2 separate regions of the Homo sapiens genome follow, and region 2 is linked to region 1. The links come from fine-mapping of genetic effects on gene expression. A gene starts in region 1. The other region holds a variant in brackets. All regions are shown on one strand. Distances are from middle to middle.

The links. PIP is the estimated chance that this variant, and not a neighbour inherited with it, causes the effect.
Region 2: its variant is the best candidate, but not a certain one, in a credible set for the expression of CH25H in fibroblasts (GTEx, PIP 0.89).

Annotation. Positions count from the first base shown.
Region 1 is chr10:89,202,624-89,210,969 of GRCh38, forward strand. It overlaps CH25H (cholesterol 25-hydroxylase), which reads right to left and starts at 4,694. Exons shown (of 1, transcript NM_003956.4): 1 at 3,006-4,694. The coding sequence starts at 4,669. The coding sequence ends at 3,851. It overlaps LOC105378418 (a long non-coding RNA gene), which reads left to right. Exons shown (of 4, transcript XR_946180.4): 4 at 1,808-1,876. RefSeq lists an enhancer at 4,466-4,535.
Region 2 is chr10:89,113,230-89,121,575 of GRCh38, forward strand. No RefSeq gene overlaps it. Among named protein-coding and RNA genes, the nearest start is that of MIR4679-2, 54 kb to the left of the region's middle. The variant CTGAG/C (reference allele first, on the strand shown) is at 5,065.

The sequences.
Region 1 (8,346 bases):
TGTTTGAGAAATGCATGATTAATGGCTAAGGTGTGTTTCTAGTTCTTCCAGGATTCATGCAACACTGAACCAATGTTTATTAAGAACTAGGCATAGTACTACAGGCAGAAATAAATGGTAGATAGGAAAAAAATAGTTGTGTGTTTATGTTTATGTATGTGAAGAGAGAGAGAAGAGGAGGCATAGTGTGTGTATACACATCTAGTACAAATATAGCAGGTTTGTACATGTTTACATATATAGTGTGTGTACATATAATGTGTACACATATATACTATACAGTGTGCTTATATATGTGTGCATATATACAGCATATGTATATAGTGTTTAAATACATCTATGTGTACATATAATAGCATGTAGTCATAGAGTTTGTGTGTATAGTGTGTACATATATAGCGTGTCTACATGTTACATGCATATGCACATATACATGGTGTATGTGAATATACATGCGTATACACATTGTGCTTATTTACTAGAATGCAATGCAGTAGGACATTTATAGACTACATTAGGAGATGGTAGGGAGGATATTAATTATAAACAATACAGGTATTTTTTAGTAAAATGAGGAGCACCTTGAGGCTTGCCTCCCTATTGTGGTGAAAGAAGAGCCATTGAAGAGAGAAGGAACAGCTGGAGAATGAGGATGGAAAGGAGTTGAGAGAAACCTCACTAAAGCAAAGCAAGAACCACATTCCAAGATGAGCTGGTTTGTAAATAAAATTCCTCTAAAAAAAAAAAAGAAGAAGAAGAAAAGAAAGCCAAGGAAATGGAACACCAAGCAGGGAAAAGTCACTGGATTTGAGAATTAGGAAATTAGTAGGCAACCCAGAGCAAAAGTTTCCAGAGGAATGGGAGTAGAATGACTCAGAGGTAAAGAAGTAGAATCAAACAAACATAGACTTCTTTCTCTTTATAAAACTTTTGCCTTGAAAGGATGGTGGGAGAAGTAGCTTGTGATGGAAGCAGAACCAACAACTTGGCTTTATTTGATTCCCCGGAATATGAGCGAGCACAAGCATGTTTGTGAACAAAAAGCTTTGACCATTCTGAACTGCAGTCCTAGCACTCACACTGGGAAGCATCAGTCACAGCAAACACGACTACAGCCAGGATTTCGGATTCATCTAGCACTTTGCGTCTAGTAACTCAAAAATCCCTCACAACAACTCAGCAAGGAACAGTCTATGATCAACAGATAAGGAAGCTAAGGCAGAGAGGTTAAGTACCTTATCCAAAGCCACTCAGCTAGTAAGTCCCAGAACCCAGATTCCCACCCAGGTAATCTGGCTGCAATAGTTGCGTTTGTAGCACAGGTGCAATGAAGGATGCAGAAAACAGTCCTTGACCTGCCTCCTGCTCTCCCAGGGCTTGCTTAGACTGGCCTTGCTCTACCTCCCCTGGCTTTCTCCCCTACCCAGGCAGAGGCTTTGGCAGCCATGTGGAAGTGAAGTAGTGGGCCAGGGTAACACTGTTTTAGGGGTAGTAACAAAGGAGGAACAACAGAGGGAGGCCATTTGTTGGTGTTGCAGGGTTTGCAGCTCTCTGGCAGTTATCAGAAGAGAAGCACAGTATACACCACCAGACCTAAGTTTAGTAGAACTGGCTCCCACTCCTCCTATTTTGTAATCTGGAAAAAAGTACTTAACCTGTGTGGGTACCAATCCTCTATCCATAACAGAGGTGATGATGATAATAGTAACTATTCTACATCCCTATGGTGTTGTTGTAAGGAGCAAGTGAGAAATTGTGTGACAGCGCATGCGCATATGAACTTTTTCTTTACTATTTTTATTAACAGGTTCTCAAGCTATCTGAAAAATTGCTCATCCTTTCCACTTCCGCGGTTCTACCTCCCAAGGCATTAAAAACTGTTAAGACATTCGATTGTAAGAAAGTATTTCTAAATCCAAATTGTGCACTTTCCATGTGTATAATTTGCCCAAAATCTAAAATTACCTTATGCAGTGATGCAACATGATACATTTTTACAATTCTCTGAGGATACGCTGTGATAAATTGTTATTATCCATGATTTACAGGGCAGCTTTGGAGTGCCTACAGCTGCTTACAACTCATAGTTGCACCATAGATTCCACACCTGCCTGTTTATCCGTCTCTTCTTACTCCAGGTGCCACGTGCATCATGATAATAATATACTACCGTCAATGTAGCATTTTCTCCTCACATCTCACTTCCTCTTTTCATGGATTTCACTTTTATAAATCAATATCATCTTTAAATCCCAGCCTGGTCCTGATACAGACAGAGGAGGAGGTAACTTCAGTCAAGAAGCTAAAGGAACACACACGTTGAAGGGAACATGGGAAAACTGGCTGTGAGCTTCCACATTCTGGGGCATTCTGCCAAACATTTGGAGGGCCTAACCATATTTCTTGGGAGTCTCATTTGGCAGACCGTGGAGACCAGGTCTCTAAATGGATGCTTTACCTTTAAACATGACAGTTTGGTTCAAATATAATGAGCCAAGAATTACACACAAAGCTGCCATTCTTTATATTGTGTCTAAATTGTCTTGATTTTTAACTCTACACTATATATATTCCAAAAACAAAACTAAAATGAATAGGCAGGAGTTAGATGGGGTGAGTGATGGGTGATGGGTGTGTGGTTAATAATAGGAATATTTACTGTCATCTGCAAGAACATCTGGGACACCTCCTCCTTTTCCACATGAGGAATCAGGGATCCAGGGCCAAATTTCACTTTATCTTTCTTTTAGAAAGGGCTGTACCTGCTGCATGTATGTTTTAATTAAGAAAACTGAATATACAGAAATTCCAGATTTCAGAAGCAATGCTTTGATGTTCATTTGCAGTAGCTATGGATGGATTCATGAAAACAGGGGCTTCCTCAGAATCCCCTTGCACATCTATCAGCCACTCTAGTGTATACTATTGACTCACCAGTTTTGCAAAGCAAGGCACGCCTCCAATTCTGTTCTTCCCCTAATCCATTCCCACAAATAATAAAATGATTGACTGCTCAGCGTTAATCTTTCTATGAAACTTTACAGAGTAATCCTATCATTTGCCTGTTATACAGAAATCAGCTGAAAAGCATTAAGAATATTAGCGTGTTTTTCCTCCATGAAATTGCTAGAGCACAACAAACAGAGCCCCTTCTCCTGCCTCCTTTTCTCTAACAACCCCCAACAGAACACCCTACACCCAGATTCCTCTCTTTCCATGGTGAGGCTGATGGAGGCTTAGAAGGACACTTGGTATGCCCGCTCCCTCTTCCCTTTTTTATCAGTCAAAATACCAGTGAAACGGAAGTCAATACTTATTTGATTCATGGTTTTTTTTCCTTTTTAAAGCACGAATAACATTTCTTTCAAAATAAATATACAGTTCTATAAAAAAATATAAGAAGGTACTATAATTCTTGGTCACTGTCCAGCAGAAACATGTTTGATTGCTTTTAGAGTCAGAAGTCAACACCATCCACAAAAATACATTCTTTTAGCCAGGTTTTAGAACACTTTGAAACATAGAAAATTCCTTATTCTACAAACAAGTCCTTTTAGAGATATTCTAAATATGCCAGTGATGAATGTCTAATTCATATGCAGGATTCAAGGCTATTGAGGTGAGCTAGACTAAGAATACCAAGAACACAAAATTGTATTGATACACAAACAGTATGTAAATTACTTTGTCAGATTACAAAAATGCATCAGATTTTATCTATGGTTTTCATAGATAAACATAAAGCAATAAGTTAGTTGCTTTAAAAAAATATATAGCTCAGGTGTTTCTCTTCATTCAAGTGTGAAAGGCACAGCAGTCCCGAGTCTTAGGGGCACCCACCGCAGCCACATCACCGCGCTGGGACAGATGCAGTCCGCAGCGTTCCCAGTATTTTGTCCCAGTGTGTAAAGTACGGAGCGAAGTTGCAGTTAAAGTGAGAGTGATGCAGGTCGTGGTGCACCACACCCCCGTACCACCCGAAGGGCACCAGTCTGTGAGTGGACCAAGGGAAGTTGTAGCCGGAGTGGTCCTCCACGGAAAGCCAGATGTTGACCACGTGGAAGGTCAGGGTGGTGAGCGGGTGGCACCCGAGCAGTGTGACGTTCATCATGTCGAAGAAGCCCAAAGAAAACAGTTCCCAGACGCTCATATACTGCGTTGCCAGCGCGAACGAGGACGAGTTCTGGTGGTGCACCTTGTGGAAGGTGCGGTACAGCCAGGGCACCTTGTGGTGCAGCAGGTGCCACACGAAGAACTCCATGTCGAAGAGTAGCAGGCAGAACAGGATGTGGTGCAGCAGCAGGAGCAGCTCGGGAGCTTCGTGGGGCAGGAGGGCCGGGCTGCGGGCCCAATGCAGCAGCGTCACGGGGAACACAAACATCACATGCTGGTAGAGGGTCTGCCCCAGGCAAGGTAGCAGCTGCTGCGCGGATGGCGAGAAGTCAGGGTGGATCTTGTAGCGCCGCAGGGCGGGCACCCAGGAGCACAGGATATCCAGGACCACGAAGGGCAGGCAAAAGCCCACGTATGTGGTGATGGAGAAGATGACCGGGAAGAAGGGCGACTGTAGGAGGGCCTCCCAGCTCCTCAGGTGGTCCCAGAGGGGCTGCAGGAACAGCTGCCCGGAGCTGCAAAGGACCTGGGGGTCGGAGCAGTTGTGGCAGCTCATTGCGAGGCTGTGCAAGGCAGCTGAGGCTGCTGCTCGAGTCCCATCGACTTTTCACAGGACTCACGGCCCCGCCCCGAGTGATGTCAGCTGCCTTTCCATCCCTTTCCCGGCGATGCGAAGCTTGAATAAGCTAGCAACCCGGCAGAGTGGCCCTTCATTGCTGTAAATGTGCTCATCTATAGCCGCATCTTACCGGCTTTTAGATATGCGTGTATGCAGTGGCACTTCGTACTTTTCATGTAAGTTCTGATTTTTCAGTTGACGTACAATTAACACGGGACACAATGTACAGATCTACCGTGTGGAGTTTCTATGAGTTTGGCAACTCAGTTCACGTGTGTCATCACGGGTCTCAAACTAGACCGTTTACATTGCCACCAGAAAGCGCTCCTTTGCAATCAATGCAGAATTGTTTGTGTTTTTTAATGCATACGTATAACTGCATCCATGTGCTTTCATAAAGACGCAAGCATAATCGCATTTTAAAAACTGTTTAAAGCTACATGCGGTCTGTAGCTCGGGTGTTTTCTGAGAACCCGGTTGCGGTCTATCCAGCGGCGATCGAGAAACGAGCCCTTTGCACAGGGAACCGCTGGTCCCCGAACGCCGGCGGTGACCGTCAGCTCAGGAAATCAGACGGGAAGGGTGGCCGGATGGGAACCTCCGCCAGCTCCAGCTTGTCCCCAGAGTTTTCCTGGCCGGCGGGCAGCAAGCTAGAGAGACCACGCACGCAGGCTCTCCGGGAGAGGCCGCAGCCCGGCCGCGTAGCTACCCTCGGCGGCGCGTCCCGGGGCGCCGGGCCCGCGATCGGAGCCGGAGGCACCGCACAGCGGAAAGAGGGCTCCGCGGCGGCCAGGCTCAGCTTTGCCGGGAAAATGCTGGATTTAACTCCCAGTCTGCGCCAATCTGGCTAAAAAGCCCGTTGTATCTCAATTTGGGGCGGGAACACTTAATTCAGCAAACCACCTGCGTTGTTCGTCAAGGGAAAGAGATGTGAGTTCCTGAAGCCTCCCGGGAGGCTATTGAAGGACCAGGTGATGTCGTCACTACCCTACCCTTCCCCTTGTTGGCTTTGCGGGGCCAACTTGCAGTCGCCCTCTGCCACCGGTCCTTGAATCCACTCCGGGCCCACGGAGCCCGGCTAGGGGGCTAGTCTCTATCCCCTGCGTTTCTCCGCCACCCATCTGGGGTCCTCGGGCCAGGGGCCACCGAGCACAAGGAGGTCGGTACTAGGAGAGCTCTTGAGAGACCCTGGGAACAGCACAAAAATCCTCGCGTTCAACCCGGGGTCTGACACATGACACGATACAAGGGCCCCTTAGGGGATAGACGTTTTAGACACCAGCTTTGAAGCCAGGGAGCACTCCTAATTCTTGCTTAGTGTCTTGTATCTATGTGGTTGTGTCCAGCCCTTTACTCCTTGAAGCTTGCATTTTCTTATCCCCCCGATTCCCCACAAAGGGAAATTGGAGTATTAAATGGAAAAATAATAAGTCTACCGTGTAAAGCCCACCTACTAGGTGCCACGCATTGGCTAAATGTTTTATCTGAATTGATTTTATCCAATCCTCAAAAAAGCTGGCTTCCTCACCCTGCCAAGAAGTAGGATTATTATTATTGCTGTGGGTTTACAGCAGTAAAATCATAGGTCCTAGCACACAGCAAACACACCAAGTAATATGCATGGTATTTTAAATTTGTACTCCACACGTTACCTAAAGAATAACTGAGAAATTTGAAATTAAAATCAAGTAAGATTATGTAAAGAGAAATAAAAGATATAACGCCATCTATTATGAGGAAAGAACAAGTACTACAAAAATATGGACCAATATATGGGCCTAAAACTAAGATCATATATGGTATATATGCATACATATGATATATATAATATGCCAATTCATAATATGTAATATATAAGATATAGATACATATAATAGGCCAATTTGTAATTCAGAATCTCCTAACTGGTGTGTGTCCACTAACTGCCACTGATGGAATACTGACATTCCTTAGATGCTCATTCCCAGGAGCCCTCAGCAGTAGCCTCTAGCCCTACAGCAGCCTTTTTATTTAACCCAGGGTACTATGAAAACATTATTATATTCTGCTGACATATTTGCTGTTGATGAGATAAAGGTTCAGAAGCAGTGTTGAGTTTCTTGACAGCCAATACAAAAAGGGAACAAGGGTGAATTTTTCTAATGCTGCTGCTTTGATTTCTAGATGATAGCAGAAAATAGGTATAATGTAGGCCCCTAGTTGCTTCCAGTTAAACAACCTGTCCTTCCAAGGCTCTCCACCTCTACCGCCCATGCGCCCCCACCCCCCACAACATCTCCTCCCTTCCCCAGTGTTGTTTTCACTTCACTTTTAGGGTAAACCAGAAACTTTTCTTCTCATTCCGGCTAGACGTGGTCTTGTCCTTGATGCAGTGTTTCAGAGAAGAGCGTCCTTCTCACTGCTCCAAACGGACCATTAGAGCTCACTTTCTCAACATTAAAATTGGATTTCTGCTCATAAGTAAAATATCACTCAAATTTACCCTCAACAGAAGTTAGCCCTCAAATTTCCTTTCAGCACACATTGTCCTTTTCTTGTGGTCTCAGTTATCATGCTTGGGTGCTCTGGTTGCGAGAGCAAGAAAGATTTTTTTTTTAAGTGAGTGGCATTAGCAGGTTTGCTTAATTTGGATTTAGCTGCTAGATTTGCTGTCAAGACTGTCTCCTTTGAGTCCCCAGCCCCAACCAACCCATTCATTTTCTGCTTTGGTGTATCCACCGTCTATCGCTGTTAGAATAATGTCCATGTGCCAATTACAGAAGGCCGTGGGCAGCAAAACTTGAGAGCGCTGGCTTCAGCCTGCTTTGTCCATACTCTCCCCCGTGACTTTGTGGCACTTTGAAGGATAGCAACTAGCTTCTCTGCCATCTCTGCACTTGCAGCTGACCAGGACAGAAGTTTTTGTCTAACATACAAATGCAACCATCCCAGGGAAATTGATGAATTACAGTCCTGTTAGTTCTCCACTCTATATCATGTGGAATGCTGAACAATATGTCAGGTAACCAAAAACAGCATCACTTAATGGACCAAAATAAAATTGAACACTATCAAGTGCTGACTAAGGTGGTATCATTTCTTGAATTTGGCACATGCGCACCTTTAAACAGTTTTTATTTGCACAAAAATGTAATAGCTTGCTAGATGAATAGGTCTTTTTAGAGCACAGGGTGTATCTTCTAGGACTTCTTCTCACAGTGCCAAGCATTGCATCTTGTATGTAATGAGTGTTCAAAAGATATTTGTGGACTCAAGATTCATTTTAAAGGACATTAGCTCTAAATTGAGGCTAAAAAACAAATCTTTTTTTTTTTTCTGGAGTACTGCTTGATGTAGTTTGGATCTACCCACCTGTAAAGATGGTTTTCCCTAAAACGGGGTGTTTTCTGATTAGAACTTTGGCCACACCATTTCTTGTCCAATTGATGGTTTTCCGCAAAAGGGGGTGTTTTCTGACAGGTAGCATTAGAACTTTGGCCACGCCATCTCTTCTCCAGTTGATCATGGCTTCCTGCATATGGTTTTTATCTTAGTATGGTTTTTCTGGCGGAGTTGGAGGACAGGAATCTTTTATTTTCTGCTTATCACAGGGGTCAAATCACTTTTCTGAGAGT
Region 2 (8,346 bases), 89 kb before region 1:
GTCATATTGTTTTGAGGACTATAGCTTTGCAGTACATTTTAAAGTCCAGCAGTGTGATGCCTACAGCTTCATTCTTTTTGGTAAAGATTACTATGGCTATTCAGGATGTTTTGTGGTTCCATACAAATTTTAGGATTGTTTTTTCTATGTCTTTGAAAATGCCATTGGGATTGTGTTGTTGTTATTGTTGTAGAGACAGGGTCTCACTGTGTTGCCCAGGTTGGTCTTGATCTTCTGGTATCAAGCAATCCTCCTACTTTGGCCTCCCAAAGTGCTGGGATTACAAGAATGAGCTACCACGCCCATCCAGCATTGGAATTTTAATAGAGGTTGCATTGAATCTAAAGATTTCTGTGGGTAGTATGGATATTTTAACAATATTAATTTTTCCAGTCCATGAACAAGGATATATTTCCACTTATTTGAGTCATCTTCAATTTCTTTCATGAATGTTTTATTGTTTTCAGTATATAGCTCTTTCACTTCCTTGGTTAAATTTACTACTGAGTTGTTTTTGGTGTTTTGGTTGTCGTTGTTGTTGTTGTTGTTTTTTGCTGCCATTATAAATGGGATTGTCTTAATTTCTCTTTCAGGTAGTTGATTGTTAATATTTAGAAACGCTATTTTTGTAAGTCAATTTTGTATTCTATAACTTTACTGAATTTGTTTATGAGTTCTAACACATTTTGTTGTGGAGTTTTTAGGATTTTATCTGTAAGATCAAGTCATCAGCAAACAGAATTGTGCTCTTTGTGTACTATGCCTTTCACCTCCAAGCTATCATTTTAGCTTGGAATGGCTAGGTAAAAGCTTCAAAGAAAAGAAACCATAATGTAAGTCTGTACATCAAGTCTGTAGTACATCACAACATTTGTATAAATATCAGAAAGTTCAATCAGTAATGCATGTTGGAAAACATATAGCCAATGTAAGAAATTCAGTTTTTATTTATACTGCCAAAAATTAAAGAGACATTGTCTAAATTTCCAAGTTGGAATGTAAAACTTCGGCCACTGGATTTCCAGTTGACTCTGACAAAATTCATACCAGAGAAAATATAGTAAACTTCAAGAGATGAGAATCGTGTGTAATATACACTACCATCTTTAGAAAATCAAAGTACAGTAGTAAAATTCAGTACTTTTAAAATCCAACATGGCTTTTTATCTAGAACTAGTAATATAGATGCAGTTGCCTAAGGTTTAGTTGGGTAAACAAATACAATTAGATGTTATTTTTTCAGAAAACATCTGGTCATCACTAACCTAGATTAAAGTACTGTGTTTGGGGAGACCCAGTAAACAAAAGTAAATTAAATAGATCTGCATGCTACACAAGGAGTTTGTAATCTTAAGTTTATAATAAAATGAATTCACTGATGGCAGCAATCCAGAGAAGTATGCTAAATTCATTGACATGTTGGTAATTATCACCAAAGTTGTACAAAGAACAATAGGAGTTCAAAGAAGGAGAGATCACCTGAAGTTCAGATAATCAGAGAAGAATCAAGGTAACATCTGAGCTGAGCATTGAATGGATGGATAATATTTGGGGAGGAACTGTCAGAATGAAAATCCAGACATTAAGAAATAATGCAAGCAAATCATTCTGGTAACTACCAGGCCTTGAATGTACCTGAATACACCCCTATTAAAGATTTCACCACTTTTTTATTAGTTTACTTTACTAATGTTTTACAAATCTAAAAAAAAATTGATCTCTACTGAATGTACGTTAATGTTCATAAAATGTATTCATTCAATTATTTCTTCTATGTGTCAGAAACTGTGTTATGGCTGAGAGGCAGAAGAAAGCCTATCTCCTGTCTCTAAGGAAACTGGTTTGTTTAGTAGCAGACAAGTAAGCACATTGTTAATTAAATATATGTGTGTTTATATATATAATTAAATATATATGTGTTTATATATATACACACATATATATAAACACATATATAGTAATAACACAATTTGAGATTTTCTGGATTTGGGAATAAGAGATCATGTCAAGCTTGTAGAAAAATAATTTTTAATGACTCCCAAAAGAATCTACTAATCTCTAAGTTAAAAAAAAATATTTTTGTCTAGAATAGAGAACAATGGGGAGGAAGGGCAAAGGGACTCAAATATCTGCAGTTAAAGGAAAAGGAAAATGAGTCAGAAAAGGTATTAAAAGAATTTGAAGAGAGTTTTGGTTTGAGAAGAATAGCATTTTGGAATAGCAGAAGATTCCTGGGATCAAGGCAAAGATGACATCCAAAGAAAGAATTCATGTCAGGAAACCTGGTAAGAGCCAAATTAAATGAAATAACTACCAAAACTATCTATTCCAGTAGCTGCTATGCATGTATCACCTTATAATGGATTTGGGGGATGGAAATTTCAGATTAAAAATATGAACTCTATATTACTATATGATCATACATTGACAATAAAATTTTTCTCTCTCCTCCTGATGACAGAGCTGAGATTCACTAGTCTCAAAATGTTGAGTGTTTTAATCTCTAAAGTTGTTGTATTTTTAAGCCATAGGAACCTCATCAAGGCATAACGTTTGTTGTTGTTGTTGTTGTTTGAGATGGAGTTTTGCTCTTGTTGCCCAGGCTGGAGTGTAATGGCATGATCTCAGCTCACTGCAACCTCTGCCTCCCAGGTTCAAGCGATTCTCCTGTCTGTCTCCCAAGTAGCTCGGATCACAGGCATGCACCACCATGCCTGGCTAATTTTTTTGTATTTAGTAGAGATGGGGTTTCACCATGTTAGTCAGGCTGGTGGTGAACTCCTGACCTCAGGTGATCCACCTGGCTCAGCCTCCCAAAATGCTGGGATTACAGATGTGCGCCACCGCGCCCGGCCGGCATAACGTTTTAATATATACTACATAAAGAAAATGGTGACTAAATAAAATATATAGCATTTTATACCAAATTATCCATATTGGAGAAGAGAAAGTATTGAAGGGTAACTAATCAAAATACATATTAAAATAATAAGGTTGGACACTGGGAGAAGACAAGTTTGGCTGCCAATCTGACAATGGCCCTTGGCATTTGCACTGTATAGGGTCCTGTCCTCTAGTCGCAGTTCATTAAAATAGTGATGACATCTGACTCAAGAAATGCCAAAGAGTCTTTTCAAGAATTTAAATGACTCATTGACTCCAGGGAGTCAACTCCTGGAACTTGAACTAAGAAGCCCTGTTGGGAACTGGGGTAACCATGAGCAAGCAGAGAAAAGCACCAAGATCAGACAGAAGCAGGGAAGGGTAATGAGAGAAAAGGAGAAGCACAGAAAGAAGTCAGTACACACCATTTGGAGATAGGGAAGTCAGTATAGGAGAAGGTGGTGAAGAGACAGGGGAAAGTTTCTGATGGCTTTCCTTCTTTTGCAGATGGTTCTTTGTGTAGTTCAAATGTGCTTCCTGCCTTGGATTCTAAAACCACTGCATTGAAAGTCCCCTTTATTTCCAAGTAAGCTATTTTGAATAACTTTTTAAAAATTAAGTTAGTGTGAATAAAAAGAAGTAGCCCCCGAGAAACAGAATGTCCTATATTTCAAAGTCATACTATTTTAAAATATTTGTTCTTATTCATCCAGGTCATAGTGTCACTATCTCTGATATCACTAAGGATTTCATATCTCTGCTATTACTAAGGATTTCATAGTTACTTGCTACTCCTTTTAAAAAGGGTGGATAGAAGAACTTCTCTAAATGTCTAGTAACTTTAGGGTTTTTGTATATTAAAAGATGCCAGGTGAGAGAAGACAAAGAGAAAACAAGTGGAAATATGGTTTTCTGTGGAAGGTATGATAGAATAATGCCCCACTTCCAACCCCAAAGATGTCTACATCCTAATCCCCAGACACTGTGACGTGAATGTGTTACTTCACATAGTCAAAGGGACTTGCAAATGTAAAAGTGAAGAACGTTGAGATTGGGAGATTATCTTGGACTATTCATGTGATTCCTACTAGGGAAGAAGAATGTACCAGAGAAGTGAGATGAAAGGAGGAAAGATTCAAATACAAAAGGACTTCAAATCACAGTTTCTGACTTTGAAGATGGAAGAAGGGAACCATAAGCCAAGAAATGTAGGGGCCTCTAGAAGCCAGGAAAGGCCCTCAATGGATAACTGCAATAAAAAAGGAGACCTCAGTCCTAAAATCACAAGGAATTGAATTCTGCCAACAGCCCAAAGGAGCAAGAAAATGAATCTTGTCCTAGAGCCTACAAAAGGAATGCAGGTGCCCTGCCAATGCCTTGATTTTAGCCCAGTGAAATTCATGCCAGACTACAGAACTGTAAGATAATACACTTGTGATGTTTTAAGCCACTAAGTTTGTGGAAAACTGTCACAGAAGCCATAGAAAACTACTATACCTTTTAAATCAAATTCTATGATTCTCAGTCTAGTAGGATATGACAGAAAAATGAAGTCAGACTTTTTCCTCAAGAACTGTTTTATCTTCAGTTGCTTTAACGATCACGTTTTCCTACTATGGTGCTGATTAGTTTTTTGGTAAGATTCTTGATCACAGAAGATATCAAATACACAGACTGAAGTTCAACACTTATTTTGAAGCTAGAAAATAAAAATATATATACATTCTTGGAATAATCTATTGCATACATACAGTATGAAAAAAATGAAGTAACTTCATAAAACAGTATCCATTTGTAAAATTCACTAGAGAATTCCAGTGTATTTCCATGGAACTATGCATTGTCAAGTTTTTAATTAGTCACACTAATTTCCCCCTTTGGTGTTAACTATCAAAGCATACTCAAATCTTCCTCATTGGCATTACACATTGGAGTTGCTCAATAAATGTATGTTGGACTTCAGTGTGGTGTTCTGCTAAGTACTTAAAATTCAATAGGGAAAAATAATCACAAGAATTTCTGTTAGGAGTTTGAGATAATTTGGTGGATAATTATGTGCCTTCCTATTACTGCTGGAGGGTAACAGCTGTCATGTATGACCCAAGTGCTGTTGTGAAGTGTGGTTTTGTGCATTCTTCAAAGATAACTAAGCATCTTTCATGTGTTACGACTTGTGTAGTC[CTGAG/C]TGATTAATCACTTTGATCCTTGAATCAAATGGGCTCTTAGGTGAAAGAAATATAAACACTTATGCAATGGGACAAGGGCTATAATTCAGTTATCTATAATTCACTTATTAAGAATCTACTATGCACTGGGTACTGGGAAGGGGGGTAGGCCCTGGGGAAACATAGATTAATCCCCTTGAGTATGGGCCAGGCTTTGTGACTCGTTTCTAATAAATGGAAGCTTCATGGATGAGGCTGCTGACTTCCAGTTCAGGTCATAAAAGACATCCTGCTTTCACCTGGTTCTCTAACCCCTCTTCCTGCCACTGTTCTTTAAGGAAGCCAAACAGCCACATGGAAAGACCACATTTAGGTGTTCTGAACACAGTCCCAACTGAGCCAATATCAGCTGTCAGACATGTAAGTCTGTGATATCTCAGATAATTCTAGCCCCCAGTCTGGGAACTGCCACAGGTGGCAATGAAAGGACCAGAGATGAGTTATCATTGGTGAGCCAGATCCATACTGCAGATTTTTGAGTAAAGTAAATGTTGCTTTAAGGCTCTAGGCTTGAGACAGCTTATTACATAGCTATAGATAGTAGAAACATGCTTTTTAAGAAAATATATTTATACCTACATTTATTTATGTTCTGTCTTTTTCCGTTTAACTTTAAGTTGCTTGAGGACAGAGAACCCATCTGTTTTCAGTGCTTGGGACAGTAGCTTGCTTGCGTATAATGGTTGGTTAATATTTCTGAAAAAAAAAAAAAAGAATGAATTTATTGTATGATATACATCTTAGAAAACACTATTCTGGCTTTGGAAAAGATAATTATATAGATCCAAGACAGGAAGACAAGCTGGGAAACTTGCAATAATCCAGGTAAGAACTGACAGTAGAAACTGTGGATATGATTGAAATCACTAGGCAGAAAATGTAGAATGAGGAGGAAAGAAAAAAAAAATCCAGATCAAAGCTTCAAGAAAGACAAAGCAAGGAGCAATTAATGGTTAAAGACCCTTTTAAAAAGTTTGTTAATTATGGAAAATTTCGGATATTCCCAAAAGTAGAGAGAATAGTAAAATGAACTCTTATGTATCCATCACCAAAGTTCAAAATTTAGCCATTTTGTGCTGTTTGTATTTTGTCTACAATTATATTATTTTAGGCTGTTCACAAGGATATAAAAGATTCAAGCAATATTTCTTGGTGCCTACTATTGAGAGGGACTACTTAGTGGTTTAGGATGATAAAAGTATGAATAAAACTGGGTATCACAGATTTTGGATTGCTGATAGAGAGTTGGGAAAGTGTACTATATCAGCAAGTCCAAGAAGAAAACACATACACAGGCAAACAGCATATCTAAGGAGTGTTTAATAAAGGAATTATTTACAAAGCTGTGAGTAAGGTTAAAGAAAACAAACAAGGAATGGTAAAATACACCAGCAAGGGGGTGTTTCTATCCTTAGGCCTGAAGAAGCAAAGGGAGAGAGCTCAGAGAGGGTAGCCGCAGCCTTTGACAGGGCCAGCTAAAAGAGCCATGGCCTTTAATAGAGGGAGGGAGCCAACTAGGAGCAGCTGGCAGAGAAGGAGGGGGTAAGTAAACACTCCCTCCTCACTCTCCTTTCACTCTGCTCTTGCTGGTGCTTCCTCTTGGTTGAACCCAACTGGAGTAAAAGTAAGCTTATTGACACACTCAATCCAGGAAAGTTTCCTGGAATACAGAGTTTTCCTGGAATACAGAGTGTGCCAGAGAAGGAAGCAAAGGGAATCTAAAGGGGCAAACAGAAAATATCCAACAAAAAGGCAAAATATCCAACAAAAATGTAGCCCTGTACATTTCAATTCAGTGTGACCAAAGCAACTACAAAGAAAAAATGCACACAATACAGAGATAGCTAGAAGTAAATAATTCCCTTTATCTTGCAAAAATAGTGCTTGAGTTGGCTTTGGGTTTTCTTTCAACTTTTTGTTAAAACATAATTCATAAAGGTTAAAAAATCATAATACATCTCAATAAATTTTCAGAAAGTGAGCACACATATATAATTAGCACCCAGATCAAAAAAGAAAACACTACCAGCATCCCAGAGTTCCCCATATTGCCTCCTCCAGCCATTATTCTCCTCAAGGGACACCACTATCCTGTCTTCTAATACCACAGATGAATTTTGTATGATTGTTGAACTTGATATGAAGTGAATTAAGTAGCATGTATTCTTTTGTGTCTGGCTTGTTGTGCTCAATTATTTGTGAGTGTTACCTATGTTGTTGTGTGTAGTTGCATTCTGCTCTATTTCATTGTTATATAATATCCTATTGTGTGAATATACAACAATTTATTCATTCTATGGTAGTGGAAATCCATAAGATTCCCAGTTTTTACATATTAAAAATAATACAGAGATGAACATTTGGGTTTTGAACAAAGACTAGGAAGTGACATTTGTGAAATGGACACAGAAGTGGGACTTTCTTGTGAAGGACAAACCGTGAACAATGGGATGGAGGCATGAAATAGCACAGTGTTTTGGGGCACCTCTAGGAAGCTGGACATCGCTGGGTTGTGGCAGGTGAGGTGAGAGTGACAGGACCTGAGTCTGGAGAAGCAGGAAGGGTCCAGATTCTTCAACAAGGTATGGGGATGGGCTTCAGTGAAGACTGAAAACAAAGGACTGGCTGTACCTGATAAGGATTTTAGAAAAATGACTGTCACAGTGATACTGAGAATGGATTGGAGTAAGAATCAGTCAGAAAACAGGAGGGCTATTTCGTGGGTTTCTTCCACATTCCAACACGGATAATTAACTGTGCTACAATGTTTAAATACTGGAATTTCCCCAGTCTTTAGAAATATCTTCCTTAGGAATGCTGCATTCTTGTGTCCTCAACTTTTGAAAGACTTTGGTTCTAGGTCAGCTTGCGTTCTCTTGGGGCTTTGATGCAGAAATCAGCAAAAGCCACTTGAGTCTCAGCACAAAGTGGAATCTTCACTATAGTTTTATATATTTATTTAAGTATTTATGAGGAAAAATCTGGCTTCTTATGTATATAAGAATACATGCTGGATGGGGAATCTAATCAGGCTAGAGAAGGAGAATCTTGTCCATCATAAAGAGTAGTCACTTCCCTTTTAAGATGCAGCAGGATCCCAATGGCAATAGCCGAAGTTGAGCAAAAAGGCTCAGTAAGTCACATGGGGGAAGTGGTTCCTGTAATAATTTGGGGGTAGTCAGCAGGGAGACAGTGTTGTTGTTGCCTCCACTACATTTTGTTTTGCTTTGTTGAAAAA